4 separate regions of the Homo sapiens genome follow, and all the other regions are linked to region 2. Evidence: fine-mapped expression QTL. A gene starts in region 2. Each other region holds a variant in brackets. All regions are shown on one strand. Distances are between the middles of the regions.

What was found. PIP is the estimated chance that this variant, and not a neighbour inherited with it, causes the effect. A credible set is the group of variants that fine-mapping cannot tell apart.
Region 1: its variant is the best candidate, but not a certain one, in a credible set for the expression of PRDX6 in whole blood (INTERVAL, PIP 0.61).
Region 3: its variant is the best candidate, but not a certain one, in a credible set for the expression of PRDX6 in whole blood (TOPMed, PIP 0.84).
Region 4: its variant is the best candidate, but not a certain one, in a credible set for the expression of PRDX6 in whole blood (TOPMed, PIP 0.57).

Annotation. Positions count from the first base shown.
Region 1 is chr1:173,516,134-173,521,286 of GRCh38, forward strand. SLC9C2 (solute carrier family 9 member C2 (putative)) reads right to left here. Exons shown (of 28, transcript NM_178527.4): 23 at 1,404-1,571. Among named protein-coding and RNA genes, the nearest start is that of PRDX6, 41 kb to the left of the region's middle. The variant G/T (reference allele first, on the strand shown) is at 2,652.
Region 2 is chr1:173,474,677-173,479,829 of GRCh38, forward strand. It overlaps PRDX6 (peroxiredoxin 6), which reads left to right and starts at 2,659. Exons shown (of 5, transcript NM_004905.3): 1 at 2,659-2,816. The coding sequence starts at 2,722. It overlaps LOC100506023 (a long non-coding RNA gene), which reads right to left and starts at 2,479. Exons shown (of 3, transcript NR_037845.1): 1 at 1,956-2,479. RefSeq lists enhancers at 1,664-2,200, 2,698-2,857 and a silencer at 2,458-2,627.
Region 3 is chr1:173,535,444-173,540,596 of GRCh38, forward strand. SLC9C2 (solute carrier family 9 member C2 (putative)) reads right to left here. Exons shown (of 28, transcript NM_178527.4): 14 at 1,499-1,596; 15 at 387-506. Among named protein-coding and RNA genes, the nearest start is that of PRDX6, 61 kb to the left of the region's middle. The variant T/C (reference allele first, on the strand shown) is at 2,612.
Region 4 is chr1:173,568,134-173,573,286 of GRCh38, forward strand. SLC9C2 (solute carrier family 9 member C2 (putative)) reads right to left here. Exons shown (of 28, transcript NM_178527.4): 9 at 5,049-5,153. Among named protein-coding and RNA genes, the nearest start is that of SLC9C2, 32 kb to the right of the region's middle. The variant C/T (reference allele first, on the strand shown) is at 2,436.

The sequences.
Region 1 (5,153 bases), 41 kb after region 2:
CCCAGTTGGGTGGCACAGGGAGCAGGACCCATTTAACGAACCACTTTGTCCCTTGGTCTTTGGCTCATTTCTATTTGAATTCCCCACACCTAGTGAAATGTCAGGACACTTAGGTGTTGAATAGATAACTTCTTACTTAGCAAATGAAACATAGAAGGAAGTTTAAAAACAAACAAGTATTCCTTTTTTAAGTTTTAAGTTCAGTGGTACATATGCAGGTTTGTTACATAGGTAAACTTGTGTCATGAGGGTTTGTTGTACAGATTATTTCATCACCCATGTATTAAGCCTAGTACCCGTAGTTATTTTTCCTGATTCTCTCCCTCCTTCCACCCTCCACCCTCCAATAGGCCCCAGTGTGTTTTATTCCCCTCTCTGTGTCTGTGTGTTCTCATCATTTAGCTCCCACTTATATGTGAGAACATGTGATATTTGGCTTTCTGTTCCTGCATTAATTTACTAAAGATAATGGCCTCCAGCTCCATCCATAGTTCCTGCAAAAGACATGATCTCACTCTTTTTTAGGGCTACATAGTATTCTATGGTATATATGTACCATGTTTTCTTTATCCACTCTATCATTGATGAGCATTTAGGTTGATTCCACGTCTTTGCTGTTGTGAATAGTGCTGCAGTGAACATACATGTGCATGTGTCTTTATAATAGAATGATTTACATTCCTTTGGGTATATACCCAGTAATGGGATTGCTGGGTCAATGGTACTTCTGTCTTTAGGTCTTTGAGGAAACGTCACACTGTCTTCCACAATGGTTGAATTAATTTATACTCCCACTAACAGTGTGTAATTGTTCCTTTTTCTCCACAACCTCTCCAGCACCTGTTACTTTTTGACTTTTTAATAGCAGCCATTCTGACTGGTGTGAGATGGTATCTCATTGTGGTTTTGATTTGCATTTCTCTATTGATCAGTTATGTTGAGCTTTTTTTCATATGCTTATTGGCCACATGTATGTCTTCTTTTGAAAAGTATCTGTTCATATATTTTGCCCACTTTTTAATGGAGTTGTTTTAAAAACAAATAAATATTCTTTAAAAACACTGTTGTCATAATGGTGACCATTTATTGAGCACCTATATGTGTCAGGCATTTTACGTAGATGTTTTCCTAATCCTCATAACATCAAAAGGTTGGTATTCTCTCTACTTCATAAACAAGGACACTGAGACTTAAGGAGGTTAAATAACTACTCCCTTAGGCAGGATGCAGTGGAGCTTGGCAGAGCCTGGGATGTGAGACACTAAATCTGCCTTTTCAGCTATGTTACCTCCCAATAGCTGGTTGGGTGACTAAGATGTCAAAACCCCAAAAAAGAAAAGATGCTGGTATTTTTTATTTACTTGAAGAATAATTAATAACTCATGACAGAACCATTTTCCTACCTGTAAACTAGTTTCACAGATGACGGTATATTCAATTTCACGCTTAAGCAGACAGCTTAGCTCTCCAATTATGTCCCCAGTAGTACAGAACTCTGTAAACATGTCTCTGGACCCTCTATCACACCTTTGATTACTCTCTATTCCAAAGGTAGGAGATAAACTATGCAACTGCAAAGGGAAAAAAAGTGTGCAAAGGGAAAGAAAAAATGAAAAACCCTTTGATCAAATCATAGGAGCTCCCACTATTTCTTACAACTTTCCAATGGAAGGGAAAGATCTCCTGTCAGGTGTGAAAGAAGAATTAGGCTTAAGAAAAAAAAATCATGATTTCTTTAACATTTCAACTCCCCAAGGCAAGGATTTTTTTCTAATCTTTAGTTTTACAGATGACCCCTATTTACAACTTTCTACTTATACCTGTCTTATACAAAAATCCCACCAGGGCTGGGCGCAGTGGCTCACGCCTGTAATCCCAGCACTTTGGGAGGCCAAGGCGGGCGGATCACAAGATCAAGAGTTCGGGACCAGCCTGGCCAACATGGTGAAACCCCGTCTCTGCTAAAAAAAAATACAAAAATTAGTCGAGCATGGTGACGCATACTTGTAGTCCCAGCTACTCAGGAGACTGAGGCAGGAGGATCATTTGAACCCAGGAGGCAGAGGTTGCAGTGAGCCAAGATCGTGCCACTGCACTCCAGCTGGGCGACAAAGTGAGACTCCATCTCAAAGAAAAAAAAAAAAAACCCACCAAAACTGGAAATTATAGTATGCAACTAATGCAATCACTCATTGAGTCCATTAGATATTCTTACCGCAATGGGCTAATGCATCAGGTGGAAATAACTTTTGATTGCATGGGCACATAAATCAGATATTATGAATTAATATGCCTCCAAACCAAGCCATGATGTTAATGAAAGCCTTGTCTCTTTTTAAAATGCTTTAGAAAAATTACCATGCAATATCAACAGGAAAAGGTTTTAGGATGAACATAGGATGGTTGAGTTACTTCAAGAAAATAACTGGTAGGCATAGCTGGAGAAAGAACCGCGGTATCAGATTTTAGGGGGAAGCTGAAAGAATTGGGATTAGAAAGATTACAGAATTTTTCAGAAAGTTTAGCTGTAAACATCAAAGAGGAAGGTTCTTGTTCAAGACACAGGAAACAGGAAGCAAAAGGTCATTCTCTCCCAGCAATTAGCATTCAGACTTTTAAAGGCATTCATGCTTCCAGAAGAGTTTGAATTT[G/T]TTTTTAATGGCTGTAATTTTGAATGCAATTCAAAGGATCTTTGAGCAATGAAGAATGCCTCTGCTTTTTGCAAACAAAGAAAAGATGATGGCATTTGAGGTAGGCAGCATTCTAAAGGAGGCCCCCCCAAGATTCCTGTCTGTTGTTCAACCAAATACTAATCTAGGGACTGCAGTGAAGGGACTTTGTAGTGGAATTAAGGTTGCTAATTGGCTGACCTTAAAAAGATGATTTTTGGAGTTAAGGCTACTAATCAGCTGACCTTAAAAAGATCTACAAAGTCCCTTCACAGCTGTACCAGATTAGTATTTGATTAAACAACAGACGGGAATATTGCGGGGACTGTAATCACATGAGCCCTCGCAAGTAGAAGGGAGTCCATCAGAGAGAGATGTGTGAAGGATTCCATATGCCTTTGCTTGCTCTGAGATGTGAGGACCTGCATGCAAGGACAAAAGAGAAGCTCTAGGAGCTCAAGGTGGGCTCCAGCTGACAGCCTTGAAGAAGCAAGGACTTCTGTTCAATAGCCGTAAAGAATAACTAGATCTGCCAACAACCTCAAAGAGCCTGGAAACAGATTGTGCCCTTAGAGCTTCCAGAAGGTAACATAGCACTACTGACATCTAGATTTCAGCTTCTTGAGACCCAAGCAGTGAAATCAGCAGAACCCATTGGATTTCTGACCTACACAGCCATGAGATAATATATTTAAGCACTAAATTTGTGGTAATTTGTTATGGTATCAAAAAAGTACTAATATAACCTCTTCAGACCAGACATTATTGGACTATAGTTTAAGAAGGTTTAGCTAGTCCAGTCATGGCAGGAAAATCCCCAAAGAAACATGTTACAGCAAGTTGCAGCTTTTAAGTATCGGACTTGCCGTATTTCATAAATACTGGCAGCAGTGTGTTTGTCCTAGAATTCTAATGGGAGTATAGTATAATGGCTAAGCACATGGATACTGGAGACAGACTACATGGGTTCAAAGTAATCTTTGGCCTCTGAGTATGTGTAGTTGGGGCCAAGTGAATTTTTTTTTTCTGTTCATCAGTTTTCTCATGTAAAAAATAGGGTTGTTGGCCTGGTTCGGTGGCTCACACCTGTAATCCCAGCACTTTGGGAGGCCAAGGCGGGCGGATCACTTGAAGTCAGGAGTTCAACACCAGCCTAGGGAAATCCCGTCTCTACTAAAAACACAAAAATTAGATGGGCGTGGTGGTGCGTGCCTGTAATCCTGTAATCCCAGCTACTTGGGAGGTTGAGGCAGGAGAATCACTTGAACCCGACGGACAGACCTTGCAGTGAGCTGAGATGGTGTCACTGCACTCCAGACTGAGTGACAGAGACTGTCGCCCAGGCTGGAGTGCAGTGGCAGGATCTCGGATTCTCATGTCTCAGCCTCCTGAGTAGCTGGGATTATAGACATATGCCACCATGCCCGGCTAATTTGTGTATTTTTAGTAGAGACAGGGTTTTGCCATGTTGGCCAGGCTGGTCTCAAACTCCTGCCTCGTGATCCACCCACCTAGCCCTCAAAGTGGTGGGATTACAGCTGTGAGCCATCATGCCCAGCTTATATTGCCTTTCTCGACTACCTTTTAAAAAATCACAACTAATCTCTTCATACCTCCATCATCTGTAACATACTGTAAACTTACTTGTTTTGTTCATTGTCCCATCTCCTTTTATCCCTCTACTAGAAATTAGGCTCCAAGAAGGCAGGAATTTGTGTCTGTTTTGTCAATCCCATGCCTAGAATTAACAGTGCCTGCCACATGGTGGTAATGAAGCAAACATTTTGTTGAATAAATGAGTGAATGAATGAATGAAAAGTGCTTAGAATAGTGCCAGATAGTAAATAAGTGTTATATTGTGTTAGTATTCTATTTATTATGGTAGTTTATTTCCATGATATTTTAAGGTCTAATATACCCGTTTCAAAACCAGAAAGCCAATGGTATTATTTTTGCCATATTAAGGATTTGTCATTTTATGACCATCATCCAGGATCTAGGAATTATTTGGTTCACAAAATGGGGCTCACGCATGAAACCAGCTACTAAACTACTGTTATGCAGATACAAAGGATTCTTGTCCCCATCACTCTACTGAAATCTCTCTCCCTCTCTCTCTCTCTGTCTCTCTCTCTGGTCAACAAAAGCCTCCCATGAGACAGATTAAAAGCTGTATTTTTGATCCTCATTCTATTTCCTTTAGGTGAGTAATTTAAGCCACGCCAAGTATTGATTTCCTTCTCTGAACATTCTGAAAAATCCTGCTTCCTCCCAGGATTGCTGGAAATAAGTAAAGACTATGACAGCATTTTGTAGAATGGGAAGCACATTTCAGGTGTTGAATATTCACCTCTCAGCTGTCATGCTCAGAGTAGAAATGGTTTCATCACATTAAAAATTTAAACTTTTTCAGTATCTAAATTTATTCTTATTCTACAATTACATGTTTCAAAATACATTTTAAGTAAAAAAAAAAAAAAAAAT
Region 2 (5,153 bases):
CCGCCATTTTCCAGTCTCAAGTACCCAGGGACACAATGCACTGCGGAAGGCCGCAGGGACCTCTGCCCAAGAAAGCCTGGGTATTGTCCAAGGTTTCTCCCCACTGAGACAGCCTGAGATATGGCCTCGTGGGAAGGTAAAGACCTGACCGTCTCCCAGCCTGACACCAGTAAAGGGTCTGTGCTGAGGAGGATTAGTGAAAGAGGAAGGCCTCTTTGCAGTTGAGATAAGAGGACGGCATCTGTCTCCTGCTCATCCCTGGGAATGGAATGTCTCGGTGTAAAACCCGACGTACATTCTATTTACTAAGATGGAAAAAACCGCCTTATGGCTGGAGGTGAGACATGCTGGAGGCAATACTGCTCTTTACTGCACTGAGATGTTTGTGTAAAGTCAAACATAAATCTGGCCTATGTGCACATCGAGGCATAGAACCTTTCCTTAAACTTATTTACGACACAGAGACCTTTGCTCACATGTTTTCCTGCTGACCCTCTCCCCACCATTATCCTATAGTCCTGCCACATCCCCCTCACCGAGATAGTAGAGATAGTGATCAGTAAATACTGAGGGAACTCAGAGACCAGTGCCGGGTCCTCCGTATGCTAAGCGCCGTCCCCCGGGCCCACTGTTCTTTCTCTATACTTCATCTCTGTGTCTTATTTCTTTCCTCAGTCTCTCATCCCACCTGACGAGAAACACCCACAGGCGTGGAGGGGCTGGCCCCCTTCAGTGGACAGCTAATTCAAGACAATTTAAAATGCTCCAAAGTCTAAAGCAAACAAGTTCACAGAGTGCAGAAGCATTGCCAGTGTACAGCTTCTGGCACTGTAAATTCTAATGAGTATTTTATTATATTTGCTTAATTTACAACAGACAATAATATAATTATGCCTTTGACAGACATCAATAATCTGTTTCTGTATTCATTCTCCATATTTATAGAGTATTGTGTTTTCTAGCTGATTTCCACAACATATTGTTAACAGTGCCTTAGGCCAAACTACTCTTCTTTCCCAACTATTCTCTTTCTTCCCTACAAAGGGAGTTAAAACAAGGAGCTGTTAAAACTTGGAGCCAAATTAGAGATTAAATTACATTAGCTTTAAACGGTTTTGTGAAGTGGCTAGAAATTTTTACCAGTAATCTTACTGCAAGTCCTGGGTCACTGAAGAACTCGGTAAATATGATTAGCATGCACGCACCAACACATCACTGTGATGAAAACGCAAATCACAGTATGTGAGTCACTACTCTCAACATTGCCATGCCCCTGCCTTAAACCTGCCAGCCCCATCCAGAGGATTTTTCTCATCTCTGAACTCCAATCATTTACACCTTCCCCCATCAGAATTTACCCTACATTTTATTATAATTGCATATAAATATGCCTTCCCTGTAACAGCAGGGACTGTGTTTCTCCACTGTATGGCCTGGCACAGTGTCCAGCACACAGCAGGCAAAGCAAGAGTTACTGCATGAGCCAGTGTCATCATCCAAACGATAGCTACCATTTCCAGAGCACCTACCGTGAGCTGACTAGTTTACCTACATTATCCTGGTGGCTTTCCCAGACCAGACCACCCAAACCAAAGCAGCCCCCCAGTCACCCTCTAGGCACATAACCCTATTTTAGTTCTCTGAATACGACTGATTGCTGTCTAACATATTTTGGTTTGTGTGCTTATTGTCTGTCACCGGTTTCCCTTCACAAGAAGGAAAGCTCCAAGAGGACAGGCATCTTATCTACCTTGTACTTGGCTCATAGCAAATAAATGAATCTAAGCCGCCCACCTCCCTGGGTGACAGAGTTGACCTGCACACAGTAGGTCTCAAAGAGTATGTTTTAAATTTTATATTTAGATTTCAAGATAATTGTGTTGAATATTTTATGGTTCATAACAAACAGAAAGGGGAGGGCAGAATAAAAATAAATAAAAGTTTAGTTACATTACCCTAGCACTGACATTGGTACGGGAATTTTTGCTGCAATAAGAAAGCCACTTCCTCTGACATAAGGTCACCCATACTTCTGGGTCTTGCCACATCCTCTTAGACAGTTCATCGTAGCTGGGCTGGCTGGGGCGGTCAGGACTCCAGACGCTCACACTAAAAGAGGGGTGGTAGTCGAGCAGTCACTCCACTCCTCTGTAGGGAGCTGGCCGCGAGTGGGTGCGCAGCAGGGTGCGCGCGGACCCGTGCAGCGCCCAGGGCGGCTGTGCGAAGCCGCCGCAGCCTGCGCGCCCAGGCGATTCTCCACCTTGGGGCTCGCCTTCCTGCCGCGTTCCTCTTCCTTCCATCCCTAAAGCGCGTACGCCCTGCAGAGTCAAACCTGGCGCATCCTCAAGCTTCCAGGGGGCAACGTGACCGAGCCCCGCATCACGTGTGCAGAGACGGCCTATAGTGTCTGAAGGATGCCACCTAGTCGCAGGCCCGGCGGCGCCACCAACAGCGACCGCGGTAGTCCAGCTCGCGCCGCGTCCCGGCCCCAGCCCGGCCCGGCCCAGCCCCGCCCCGCGCCCAGCCCCGCCCCGCCCCGCGCCCAGCCCAGCCCCCGCGGCCCGGCCCCCAGCGGCCGGCCTCCCGCGGCCCCGCCCCCGCCGCCCCAGTCCCCGCCCCTCGCGCCTTCGTTTATTCCTCCGCGCGCTGGGACAGGCTGCTTCTTCGCCAGAACCAACCGGTTGCTTGCTGTCCCAGCGGCGCCCCCTCATCACCGTCGCCATGCCCGGAGGTCTGCTTCTCGGGGACGTGGCTCCCAACTTTGAGGCCAATACCACCGTCGGCCGCATCCGTTTCCACGACTTTCTGGGAGACTCGTAAGTGGCCACCGCGTAGCCCTGTCCTGGCCTCGGTTGCGCCGGACTCGGAGGTGCCTTCCCTGTTTCTTCTCCCTGCCGTCCTCCCGGCCGCTCAGCCCCCTGCGCCGCCCTCGCCTTCCCCCGCACTGGTTCCGGCGCGCGCCAGGCCGTGTGGCCTCTGCTCAGCGTCGGCTGCGCTGCTGGGAGCTGGCACCCGTTCGGCCTGCCCTGCGCGGGCCACTCGATCCCTCCTGGCCTCCCCGCCTCCGGCGTGGCTGGGCAAGGCCACGCCAAGGTGGGGGGTGGGGAGGATAAAATTGTGTTCTGCGGGTTCTGGAAACTCACCGCCCGCGGGAGGGTTTGTTGTCCATTTAACTCGTCTTAGTAAACTGTGCAGGTAGCGTGGTCAGGCCGAGGGCGCAGGGGCGGGGCGGCATTGACGATCACTTCCCCGGACTAGTGCCCAGGGTCGCACCGCCCTCCCACCCTCCGTTCTGGAATTTGCTCCCTGGGGAGGATGGGTGTCTAAAGCCAAAGTCGGAGGACACAGCTGCTGGCTATAGGTTACAGGAAGGCCAACGTATCATCTGAGGGTGCAGTGGTATTTGCAGGCTTCTGGGCACAAAATGTGAAATTTAAAACCACTAGCTGCCAAGTAGGTGGCCGAAAGACTTTTTGTCCAGAGCCGCCTCCAATGGCCAAGATATGATTTGATAACAGCTTTAGGAAGAGCCAAGAACACTCTGCGTAGGTGTGCCTTCAGAGATTCCAGAACTTGCAACACTTGGAGGGAAGGACTTTCTGACGCTGTTCCGCTGGAGTGGCCTATTCTTGCTAGTGATGGCCGTTCCAGGCTCCAGGACACGTGTACTCCCCAACTTTGAGACTCTCTTGTTTTCCAGTGGCTTGCCCCTCACTGTCCCCTCCGCTTTCTACCTTGCTTCTAGCACATGAGCTTGCTGATGATAGCCAAATTGATGACCTGTGATCTGACTTGGCAGTTTTACCATTATGGATAGGAGTAGTAAATCGGTGTTGCCCTTTTTTTTTTTTAACAGCTCCTGAATCAGCAAACTGGAAGTTGCTTAGTTTTCATCAGAAGCATTCCAGGCATGTCTAGTTATATTATGGTTCTGGAGTACTAGTGGTCCCACTACACTGTGGGGCTCCAAGGCTTGACAACAGTTCTTCCCCAGATTATATCCTTTTTATATACAGTATCCAGGGAGACAGGCTTATGAAATTAATCAGTGATTGGACAGGGCTGTGCAGAGAACCAGGGACAGATTCTTACACATCATATGCCTATCCAACCCTTTATAACCTCTTAAGTCCCTTTTCCAGCCACTGAATAGGGAAAAGTTAAGCTTTGTGAAAGATAGGACTAGGCCAGAAAAAGGTTGAGAAATGGAATATTCAAACCTTGAATGCAGAAAAATACTTTAGAAATACAGCTTATGGCCATTCTTATACTTAGGATCTAGGTAGTAATATTTCTCCAGCAATCCTTGGGATTTTTAGAGTTGTGTTCCTTCCCATTTCTACCTGCAGCCCTCATCCCCCATCCCCATGAAACATAAACTATTTCCAGAACTCTTAGCTTGTATAGATTAAATATTAGCATAAAACGTATTTACTGTGCCAACAGTTATAAATGCTGTCACTTTTTAAGCTAACCATACTTTTTTGGGGTTTTGTTAATGTTTATTGGCCTCTAGATCCATCTAGATTTGATCAAAAGTGGTACTTTATCAGGGAGCCATAGTTAGGAACACGGTAGAAATATCTGCATTTATTAACTAATATACAAGTCTGCCTAGGATCAGGTATAGTATTCCCTACCTTACCGGGAAGAGAAGTTTGAGCCTTTTATATGTTTATAACACATGGATTTTTGCCTGATTTTTCCAATTTTCTATTCTGTATATGATCCCAAATCAGACTGTCAATTTTTGATCCAGGTATTTTTGAGAAGAAAAAATTAAAATGTATTTCTCTACCTTACCCCTGATCATTGTAAACAACTAAAGAGGTTGGGTGCTACATTGGGTGAGTTTACCTTATCGCTGTTTCTTTAAGTGGTAGAAGCAGCTTCTTCATAGTACATCTTCACTAAGCAAAATATGTGTTTTCCAGGGGTCTTCTGGGGCTTAGTAAGTGGGAACCATTCTCTTGAAGGAGGAAACCTTTTGTCTTTTGAAAATGGGTAAGAAAATGGGAGCATGTCACTGAATTACTCTTAAGTGCAGCAGTAGGAAGACTTGGAGGGGAAGGAAGGCCAAGGTAAGACATTCTTGGAGTTTATCCTATTTGTAGCCATGAGGTAAACTGGAGTTTCACTTCTGAGGGAGGGAA
Region 3 (5,153 bases), 61 kb after region 2:
AGATCAACAGAATCACACAATAGAACAGATGAAATTAAACAGAGCTAGATCTAGTCTACCAGTTAGCTATTTCTCACCCCTGCTCTATGTTATATCCAGAAGAATATTAAGCAGCCCGCAACACACTACAACCCTCAGACACAGCAATTAAAACTTGAAGGATCCAAATATGAACATCCTTTTTCCCTTCCTGACTACTCTCTCATAGAGATGTCAATGAAGTTGCTAAAATAGAATGGAAGAAGAGAAGCAAGCACCACCCAATCAGTGAAAATAAACCATAATATAGTTTTTCTCAAATAAGGAAAATTGAGATAAGCTATTATGACAATGTAGAAATGGTAGTATTTTCAAGTATGTTTCTATTAAAGGTTCACAATACTTACTCAGGTGGAATAAAATGTATCTTTTCTATACAATATTCCAAGAAAGTTAAAACATTTTTAAACTTTATAAGCCAACTTCTAGTTCTCATATAAGTTGAAACATCATAAATACTCATGAATCTAACAGAGAAAAATGTACATATGTGTTATAATAAAAAGCAAGTGCTATACTTTGGGTTAATATAAAAGGGGAAGGTGTACTAAGTATAAATTTAATATGGACCCACCAAATAAGCTCAGTCTCATGCCTCTGCATCCATCCACCTATCCATCCATGGTCATGGTACAGGAGTAGTTTTAGCATGAGACTCCTGCTGCCTCTGTTCCTGACCAGAGGTTGAACATAAGTAAAGCTTCTCTAGACCATTTGGAGTTTGGAATCAAGCTTTCCTTTGTCATGCTGGTCTGGCCCAACCCTCTCCAAGGCCCTGAAAGCTCTAACTTTCCCAAACTTTATTCCAGGGACTGGTAAAGATCTTCCAAATAGATTACCTGGCTGCTGAAATGTTATCTATCACCCAGCCAGGATCTCCTATTATTATTGCCCCACAGCTTTGTGTTAGATCATCTATTATCTAATGTTTGCCAGGACTGTAACCAGATATTGTTATATCTCCAAGATACTGAGCTTTTCCCACCAGACTTAATTGCACTTGTCAGCACCAGCAGTTGGGTCAATTCTTCCAGAGCCTGCTCCACCCCAGGGAGCAGTCTAATGGCAGCCTCCAGGCTTCTAAACCTCCTCTGTCTGGTAATTTAAAGTGAAGATAATATAAAGGCAAAATAATTATAATAGTTATTGAGGTTATATAAGTTCCCTTTCATGGATTCCCGAGTGTCTTATCTAATTACATGACAGTCCAATCTTTCTCCAGACTCCCCTAATGTCACCAAGGTTATAAAACTTTAGAGGAAAAAAATAAACCAATAAAATAAAAAGCAGATGGATAGATGGATGGAAGGACAGACAGATGGACAGACAGAAGATGGATACATACAGATATGTGAAATAATAGATTGATCAATCAGGACATTTAATTCTCATTTTATTCATTCTTCATCATATAGTCATTCAATTTTGGAAATATCAATTAAAGAAGTGTTATACTTACTTTCCTTGGATGGAGTAATAGCATTTTGCTGCACCAATTAATATCCGGGCTGCCTCTATTTCAAGAATTCCATTGTTACGCTGTTTTTCAAAGCTACTCTAAACATACATTAAATGAAGATTACAAAAGATCAAAACATAAATGGAATGTATTCTTCTTAACCCTTACATAGCCCTCACTATTATTACTGAACTCAATATATCAAAATATGCCATTACAAAAAATTATGTAGTAGGAAATAAATATCATTCAATGCAAATGTTTACAGAATACTCATTTTTATAAAGTATAGTCCTGAATGTTATGAGATAAAAAGGGTCTTAGCTTTCTAGAAAATCAAAATGTATGCCACTCAGCCAGGCATGGTGGCTCACTTTGGGAGGCCAAGGCAGGGGGATCACTTGAGTCCAGGAGTTCAAGACCAGTCTGGGCAACACGGTGAAACCCCCCATCTCTACCAAAAATACAAAATTAGCCGGGCATGATGGCGCATGCTTGTAATCCCAGCTACTCAGGAGGCTAAGGCAGGAGAATCGCTTGAACCCAGGAGGCGGAGGTTGTGGTGAGCCGAGATCATGCCATTGCACTCCAGTCTGGGCAACAGAGCAAGACTCCGTCTCAAAAATTTATATGTGTGTGTGTATATATATGTGTGTGTATATATATGTATATATATGTATATACACACACACATATATACGCATATTATATATACAACTCAAAGAGTTTACTTCAGTAATATAAATAACATCAGTAGCATCATCTTTCTACAGCAGAATAGAGAGTGCAAAGTATTAATTCTAAGTGTAACTAATCATTTCAGCCCCACAAAGAACTATCAAAAGAAAAAGATAGGCTGTATTGTTGTGTCAATCCTCCCCCTAAAATAGCAGAAAAATTATAGCTTCTACATGACACTGACATTACATTCAGAGGTTAGCGTTACCTCCTGGAACTGCTGCCTACATTTCCTCACATACTGACCATACACTTTGCCTATCCATTGTTTAGAAATGTTGACTCCAACCACTACTGCATTTAACACATTTTCTCAAGTCTTAAAATTTGAGGGATGATAGTCATTTCAGGAAAGGAGAGAATTCACACCACTTA[T/C]ATCTCAAGACAATTCTCATTCACTCATTAGCTCCTTTTCCAGAAGACAGAAAAATTATCCACCAGTAACAGCTTTGATAAAGGATATGCAAATTCTGAAACTGCCTTCCAAACGGTATGGGGCAATGGCCAGGCTCTCTCTACTCTGAGGGCTACTGGAGCACTTAGTGGATTTCCCTACGTTGTAAGCCTCCGTGATGGCCCTGGTAGGATGTCCACTGTGAGAAAACTATGTCCCAGAAGTTCAGTCCTGAGGCCTACCTCCAGTGTTTACACTTGCAGTTTTTCCGGCCCTGCCCATCAAGAAGTAGGCCTGGATCAAGAAAATTATGATTTACTAATATGATGGATTGTTTATTTATTCATTCATCCTTTAAACAAATGTTTATTAAATGCCTACTCTGTTCCAAGCCCTGTTTTAGGGCAATGGAGGTATAGTCCAAGGCTTTAAGGGGTTCACAATCTAGTGGGGCAGGGGAAAAGTTAGATGCTTATATGATAAAACAGGAAATTAAGGGGATAACATTCAGCACAGGGTGTTAATCAGACTTGATGTAGAGATGGGATCAGAGAGAGTTTCTCTTGGAGGAGATGATACTTCAACTGAGTTTTAAGGAGAAGTACAATTATCCAGATGAAGAATGGTCGTGGGGCGAGCAGAGTGAAGAAAGAGGTAGGCAGAGGGTGGCATCTCTAGTGCACGTACAGAGGTGAGAAACAGTATGCTGAGTGCAGTAAAAAACAAGTTGTGGGGCAGAGCATCAGTTAGAGAAACAGTCAGAGGCCAGATTTTAAAATACCTTGTATATTGTGCTTTGACTTAATATCATAGGTAAACTTTTCTTGGAATGTGATATACACATTCTGTGAGATACTCCTTCAACCCCAATCCCTGAAAAACTATGCAGGGCAGGGGAAAGGGTAAGAAAATGTTGCATTCTATAGTCTCTCTTGGAGAATCTCAATGTATATCAGCATATTAAAAATTCTGAAGAGTTCTACAAGAAGTTCTAAAAGAAACCCATTTAACTTTATTTAAGCCACCATTTCCCAAACTAATTTGAGCATGGAAACTTCTTTTTTCATGCAGTTTCTATTAGCATCCCATGGAACAAGTGTTCTTTGAAACTCACAATGGAAAATGTAGGCACTGAGGAGTCATTTAGGGTTTTAAGCAGGAAGGAGGTATAGTCACATGTCTTTTAGTAAGTCACTATAATTTGAGAATGGAAATATTGGAGACAAGGGGACCAATTGAAAGTTATCGTCTGGACAAGAGATTATGACGGCCTAAATTAAGATTCACAAGAATGGAAAGGGGTGTATTTGACAAACATTTAGAAGGTAAGATTGATAGAGCTTGGAGAAGGATAGAGGAAGAGGACTGACTCCAGCAACCAATGGTCTAATTCACTAACACTTGGAATATAACAGTAGGCTTGGGATGAGTTCAATATGGATTTGAGGTAGAGTGAAAGGAGAAGCTGTCTAGCCACCACTGGATTCATGAGTCTAAAGAGCTGGTGTTGAAAGGTATGGAAGGAAGATTACAGATTTGTAGAGCATCTATGCATAGTGTTAAAATCATGAGTGTAGCTGGGACTAAAGAAGGAGAGACTATAAAATAAGAACAGTGGACAGAGTTAATTGTCCTGAGGTGCACCAACATTAAAGGGTTAAAAAGAGTTCATAGAGGAGACTGAAAAGGAAAGGGGTCATAAACACAGGAAGAATGCCAGAGTAGAAGGTACTCTTAGGAAAGCTATTCAAAAATAGCATGCAGCAAGTCCTTCCATGGGATTGTTGGTTTAAAAAAGTAAATGTGGTAGGTCATTATAACAATGACTGCAGTGTGTCATGCCTCTCTGTGTCCATGCCCACTTTGCAATTGGCATCGCTGTTTCCCCATTAAGAGGTGTAATCTACTTTTCTACTCATTGACTCTGGACTGGTTTTGTGATTTGCTTTGACTAATAAAATGGGGGTAAAAGTGACATTGTTCAGGCTCCAGAGCCTGGAACTTAAGAGGCTTTGTGGCTTCCCCTCTCACCCTGTTGGAACCCAGAGACCATGCTGTGAAGAAGCCCAGTCCAGCCAACTATACAGAATAGGCCATAGAGGGGAGAAACAAAGCACCCTGGAAGACAACTAGCATCAGCTGCCAAACCTGCGAGTGAGGACATCCTGGACCCTCCAACCATAGCTGATCTAGGAAATGACCACAGGCATAAGAGTGATCCAAAGCGAGACCAACAATAGAATCACCTGGATTGCCAACACACAGAACCATGAGAAATAATAAATCATTGCTTTAAGCCACCAAGGTCTGGGTTGCTTGGTTAAACAGCAGACGCTGACTAAAACAGGAAAAATCAGTATCAATTGTGGAGAGCCTCCAGAAATTAAAACATACTGCATTAGCTTTGGAACTGGGTGGTGGGCAGAGGGTAGGGGGGCAGTGAGAAGACTGTTAGTGGAAGCTGGAAGAGCAGTGGGGAAACTGTAGCAGGAGGCTGGAGGGAGGCAGCCATGCTATCAAAAG
Region 4 (5,153 bases), 93 kb after region 2:
ATATTTTATTTTAGGTTTGGGAGTACACGTGAAGGTTTGTTACATAGGTAAACACGTGTCACAGGGGTTTGTTGTACCTATTATTTCATCATGAAGGTATTAAGCCCAGTACCTAATAGTTACTTTTTCTGCTCCTCTCCCTCCTCCCATCCTCCCACCTCAAGTAGATCTCAGTGTCTGTTGTTTCCTTCTTTGTATTCGTAAGTTCTTATCATTTAGCCTCCACTTGTAAGTTATAACATGTAGTGTTTGGTTTTCTGTTCCTGTGTTAGTTTGCTAAGGATAATAACCTCCAACTCTATCCATGTTCCACAAAAGACATGATCTCAGTCTTTTTTATGGCTGCATAGTATTTCATGGTGTATATGTATTACATTTTCTTTATCCAATCTGGCATTGATGAGCATTTAGGTTGATTCCATGCCTTTGCTATTGTGAATAGTGCTGCAATGAACATTCACGTTCATGTGTCTTTATAGTAAAATGATTTATATTCCTCTGGGTATATACCCAATAATGAGATTGCTGGGCCAAATGGCAGTTCCTCTTTTAGCTCTTTGAGGAATTGCCAGACAGTGTTATAATTGTCCATGATTTTCCATGTACCCACTATTACCAGTAAGTCTGTGTCCTGAAAATTTGTTGAAATTATCATGTTTGATAGGTTCATCTTTTAGTCTTTCTATTCAAAATGTGAGTAGTTTACCCACCACAATTACAGTGTCATAGTATTCTATGTTTTTGTGTGTACCTACTATTACCAGTGAGTTTTATATCTTCTGATGATTTCTTATTGCTCATTAACATCCTTTTCTTTCAGATTGAAAAACTCCCTTTAGCATTTCTTCTAGGAAAGGTCTGATGTTGATGAAATCCCTCAGCTTTTGTTTGTCTGGGAAAGTCTTCATTTCTCCTTCATGTTTGAAGGATATTTTCACAGATATACTATTCTTGGGTAAAAGTTATTTTCCTTCAGCACTTTAAATATGTCATGCCACTCTCTCCTAGTCTGTAAGGTTTCCACCGAAAAGTCTGCTGCCAGACTTTTGCCTTTTGTCTCCTCTGACTGCATATTTTCAAATAGCCTGTCTTCAGGCTCACTAATTCTTTCTTCTGCTTGATCAATTCTGCTATTAAGAGACTCTAATGCATTCCTCAGTATGTCACTTGCATTTTTTATTCTAGAATTTCTGCTTGATTGGTGCTTCATTGTAAGTGGCTTCTTTTCTGCTTTTAGGGTCCTTTCTTTATCCGTGATCTTTGGCAGTTTGATTATTAAATGCCTTGAGGTAGCCTTCTTTGGGTTAAATCTGCTCAGCGTTCTACAACCTTCTTGTACTTGAATATTGATATCTTTCCCTTGGTTTGGGAAGTTCTCTGATATTACCATTTTGAATAAACTTTCTACCCCTATTTCTTTCTCTACTGCCTCTTTAAGGCCAATAACACTTAGACTTGCCCTTCTGAGGTTATTTCCTAGTAGGTGTGCCGCATTCTTTTTTATTCTTTTTTCTTTTGCGTCTTCTGACTGTGTATTCTTGAATAGTCTGTCTTCAAGCTGACTAATTCTTTCTTCTCAAGCAATTCAGGAGAATCGCTTGAGCCCAGGAGTTCAAGACCAGCCTGGGCAACACAGCAAGACCCTGTCCCAAAAAGAAATAAAAAATAAAAAGTAGTATGAAAAGCCTTAGAAATCTGCCTGGTGTTCTATTCTATTGTGATTACGCTGGTATTCAAACCATAAGACAAAGTTCTTCCCACTCTTTCCTCCTTTTTCCACAGGCAGGAAAGCCTCTCCCTATGGCCACCACTACCACCAGTCCCAAGGGAGTTCTGCCACACCACCACCCATGTTCACTTAAGGCCCAAGGGCTCTTCAAGCCAGCTTTTAATGAATGCTGCCAGGCCTGGGACTCACCCTTCAGGGCAGAGGTCTCCCCTCTGGCCCAGGGCAAGTTCAAGAATGCCTAGGCCTGGACTTGGGACCCCAAAAGCCTACTTGGTGTCTACCCCACTGTGGCCAAGCTGGTACCTGAAGCCAGCACATCTGAGTCTCACCCAAGGCCCACAGCATACCACCTGTGTATTGCTGTTATTTACTCAAGGCCCAAGAGCTCTTTAGTCAGCAGGTGATGAATCCTGCCAGGACTGGGTCCTTCCCTTCAAGACAGCAGTTTCTCTTCTGACCCAGGGTGTGTCTAGAAATGTTGTCCAGGAACTAGAGCCTGAACTGGGGGCCTCAAAACTCTGCCCAGTGCCCTATTCTGCTGTGGTTGAGCTGGTATCCAAGATGCAGGACAAAGTTCTCTTCACTCTCCTCTCCTCAAGCAGAAGGAAGAAGTCACTTTCATTGTTCTGAGCTGCGCTGCTTGAGGCTGTGGGAGGGGTGGCACAAATACTCCCCAAGCCACCCTGTCTGCTGTCTCACTAGGTCA[C/T]GCACTGCCCCGGTCCACTGGCTCTGAGACCAGCACAGCATCAGGACTTGCCTAAGAATTGCAGTCCTTATATCCTAGGCTGCCTTCCAAGTTCACTTAGTATCCCACAGCTTGCTGAGAAACTCAAGTTTCTACCACGGGAATGGGTGCTTCCCCTCTGGCTAGGGCTGGTCTAAATGTTCCCTCTGTGGGCAGGTGCTGGCTGAGTTCAGCACAGTTTTGCTTTCCACTGTCACAGGGCAGCACTAAGTTCAGTGCAAATTCCCCCAGTTGCTGTGGTCTCCCTTCCCCAAGTGCACAGATTCTCTCTCTGCACCACACAGCTGCTTTGTGGTGGGGAGGACTGGGGAGGGGTGGTGTCAGCAATCCATGACTGTTTTTCCTACCCTCTTTAGTGCCTCTTTCTGCAATATGAATTTTAAAGTAGGTACTGTGATCACTCACTTGATTTTTGGTTCTTATGAAGGTGCTTTTTTGTGTGCAGATAGCTGTTAAAATGTGGTGTTCCTGCAGGGGGGTGAGAGGGATGATCAGTGGAGCCTTCTATTCATCAGCCATCTTGCTCCATCCTCAGTAAACATTTTAAAAGCTAAAATGCCCTGACTTTATTCCCCTTCACAAATCCCATTCCCCAGAGGAAAGTAACCACTCTTACGGGGCTGATGTACATCCTTCCAGGTGTTTTCTTAACTCACAAAGGTATTCATACGTGGGTTCTTTCTCTTACTTTTTTTCATACTTACCTATCTATCCTCATCTCCTGCTCTCCCCTCTCTCTGTTTCAGTGATCAAGGCCTCCCTGCTGTTTATTGCACATACCAGGCTGGCCCTTCCCTTAGGGCATGTACAATTATGAGTCTTTCCCCCCATCTGCCTGGCTCCCTCACCTCTTTCATATCTTTATTCAAATGTCACTTTCTCATTGAGGCCTACCTTGCCCACTGGGTTGAATTGCAGCTTGCCATCTAGTGCTGGCACATCCAACTTCCTCACCATGCTTTATTTATTTTCATAGTCTTTATTATTTTCTAATATATTATATTCTTCATTTAACATGATTTTGGTTTTTTTTCTGAAAACCCCAATTACATTGTAAACTCCATGATGGCAGAAATTTTCATGTTTTCAGAGTATTTTGTCCACTGAGGTGTCCTAAGTGCCTGGAACAATGCCTGACATTTAGTAGGTGCTTGATAAATATCTGCTGAAAGAATTAACAAATACAGTGGTGGTTTGTTTTCATGTTTTAATTTTATTAATAATGTTTTGTTTTAAAACCTACTGATAATTTCTTTGGGGAATCCTTTCATTATTCTGAAGCTTCAAAAGTTGTGTCTTATCCTGAGAAAATAAGGATAGCCACAATCATGGCAAAAACTCACTTCACTGAGCATTTACTATGTGCCAGGCATGGTGCTAAATTCTTGTACTTGCATTACCTCATTGAATCCTCACAGCAACCCTCTGAGATGATCTATTATTATGCCCAGTCTACAGATAAGTAATTGAAACTTAGATTAAGTAATGACCCAAAGTCACATAGTTACATAGTCACAAAGCTAACAAGTGTGGGAGATGGAATTTGGATCCAGAAATAAACATAAACACCTAAATTATACTAGGGAGCAATGACTAACTTAAAAACTGTTTTTTAAGAGTCCAGACAGAGAGGCAGAGAAAAGATGATAAGATGGCTACTGATTTCACAGCTGCATGGGAACAGCAGGTAGGCACCAATTTAGGCCCCACTCTGATGAGGTGGGGGATAGGGGTAGCACTCAGGGCTGTGTACACAGCCTTCTGTGTGAGAGTGACTATCTGAGTTGCATGCAGTGCCTTGCGTTAGCAGACTCAAGTTTCCATGGGAACATACTATAAGACAAGCTACCCTGGCCACCATCCTGAGTGAAAATGACAGTGTTTTTGGAGACATTGCCATAAATTCTTATGGAAGACACAACTACCATCAGTGGGCAATGCCATTCTAGAATAAGGATGCTCATGGAGTCAGGTTTAAATACCAAATTTGCTCTTATGAGTTGAGTGACTCTAGGCAGGTTTTTACATTCTCTGGGCTTCGTCTGTGAAGTGATGCAATAACACATACATCACAAAGTGATATTCACATCAATGGCATACAGTACATGGTAACTGCATTATCACAGCTATTGGTACATAGCATGATAGTGGCTTTCTCATAGCTATTGACGATAATAAATTATGGTGAAATTCAACAAAAATGTTAAGAGCAATTAATCTGGTCCAGTGATGCTCAACTTTAACATGCATACAAACTACCTGAAGAGCATGTTAAAACTATTTCCTGGATCTCATATTTAGAGATTTGATTCAGTAGGTTGAGATGGGCTCATGAATATGCATTTCTGTCTAGCTTATGGGTGACGCCGATCCCTCTCATTTTATGGATAAAATCTTGAAAAATAAACACTTACCCCAAGTTGCACAGCAAGCTATTGTCAAGGCCTTGATAACAATGCCGGTTTCCTGGCTCCATGTCCAGAGCCCTTTTTGCTGTATGCCACTGCTTCCTAATTCTAATTCTGGCCTTGAGAATCTCAGTTTAGTAAACAAACTTTAAAATATTATTCTTACCTTACCAAATTCACTGTTGTAAATAAAATGAATATGAAAGGTATAGTGTGAAATTCATAGTGGCTGAGTTCTCCACATCCAATCACAATGCCAAAGAAAGCATAT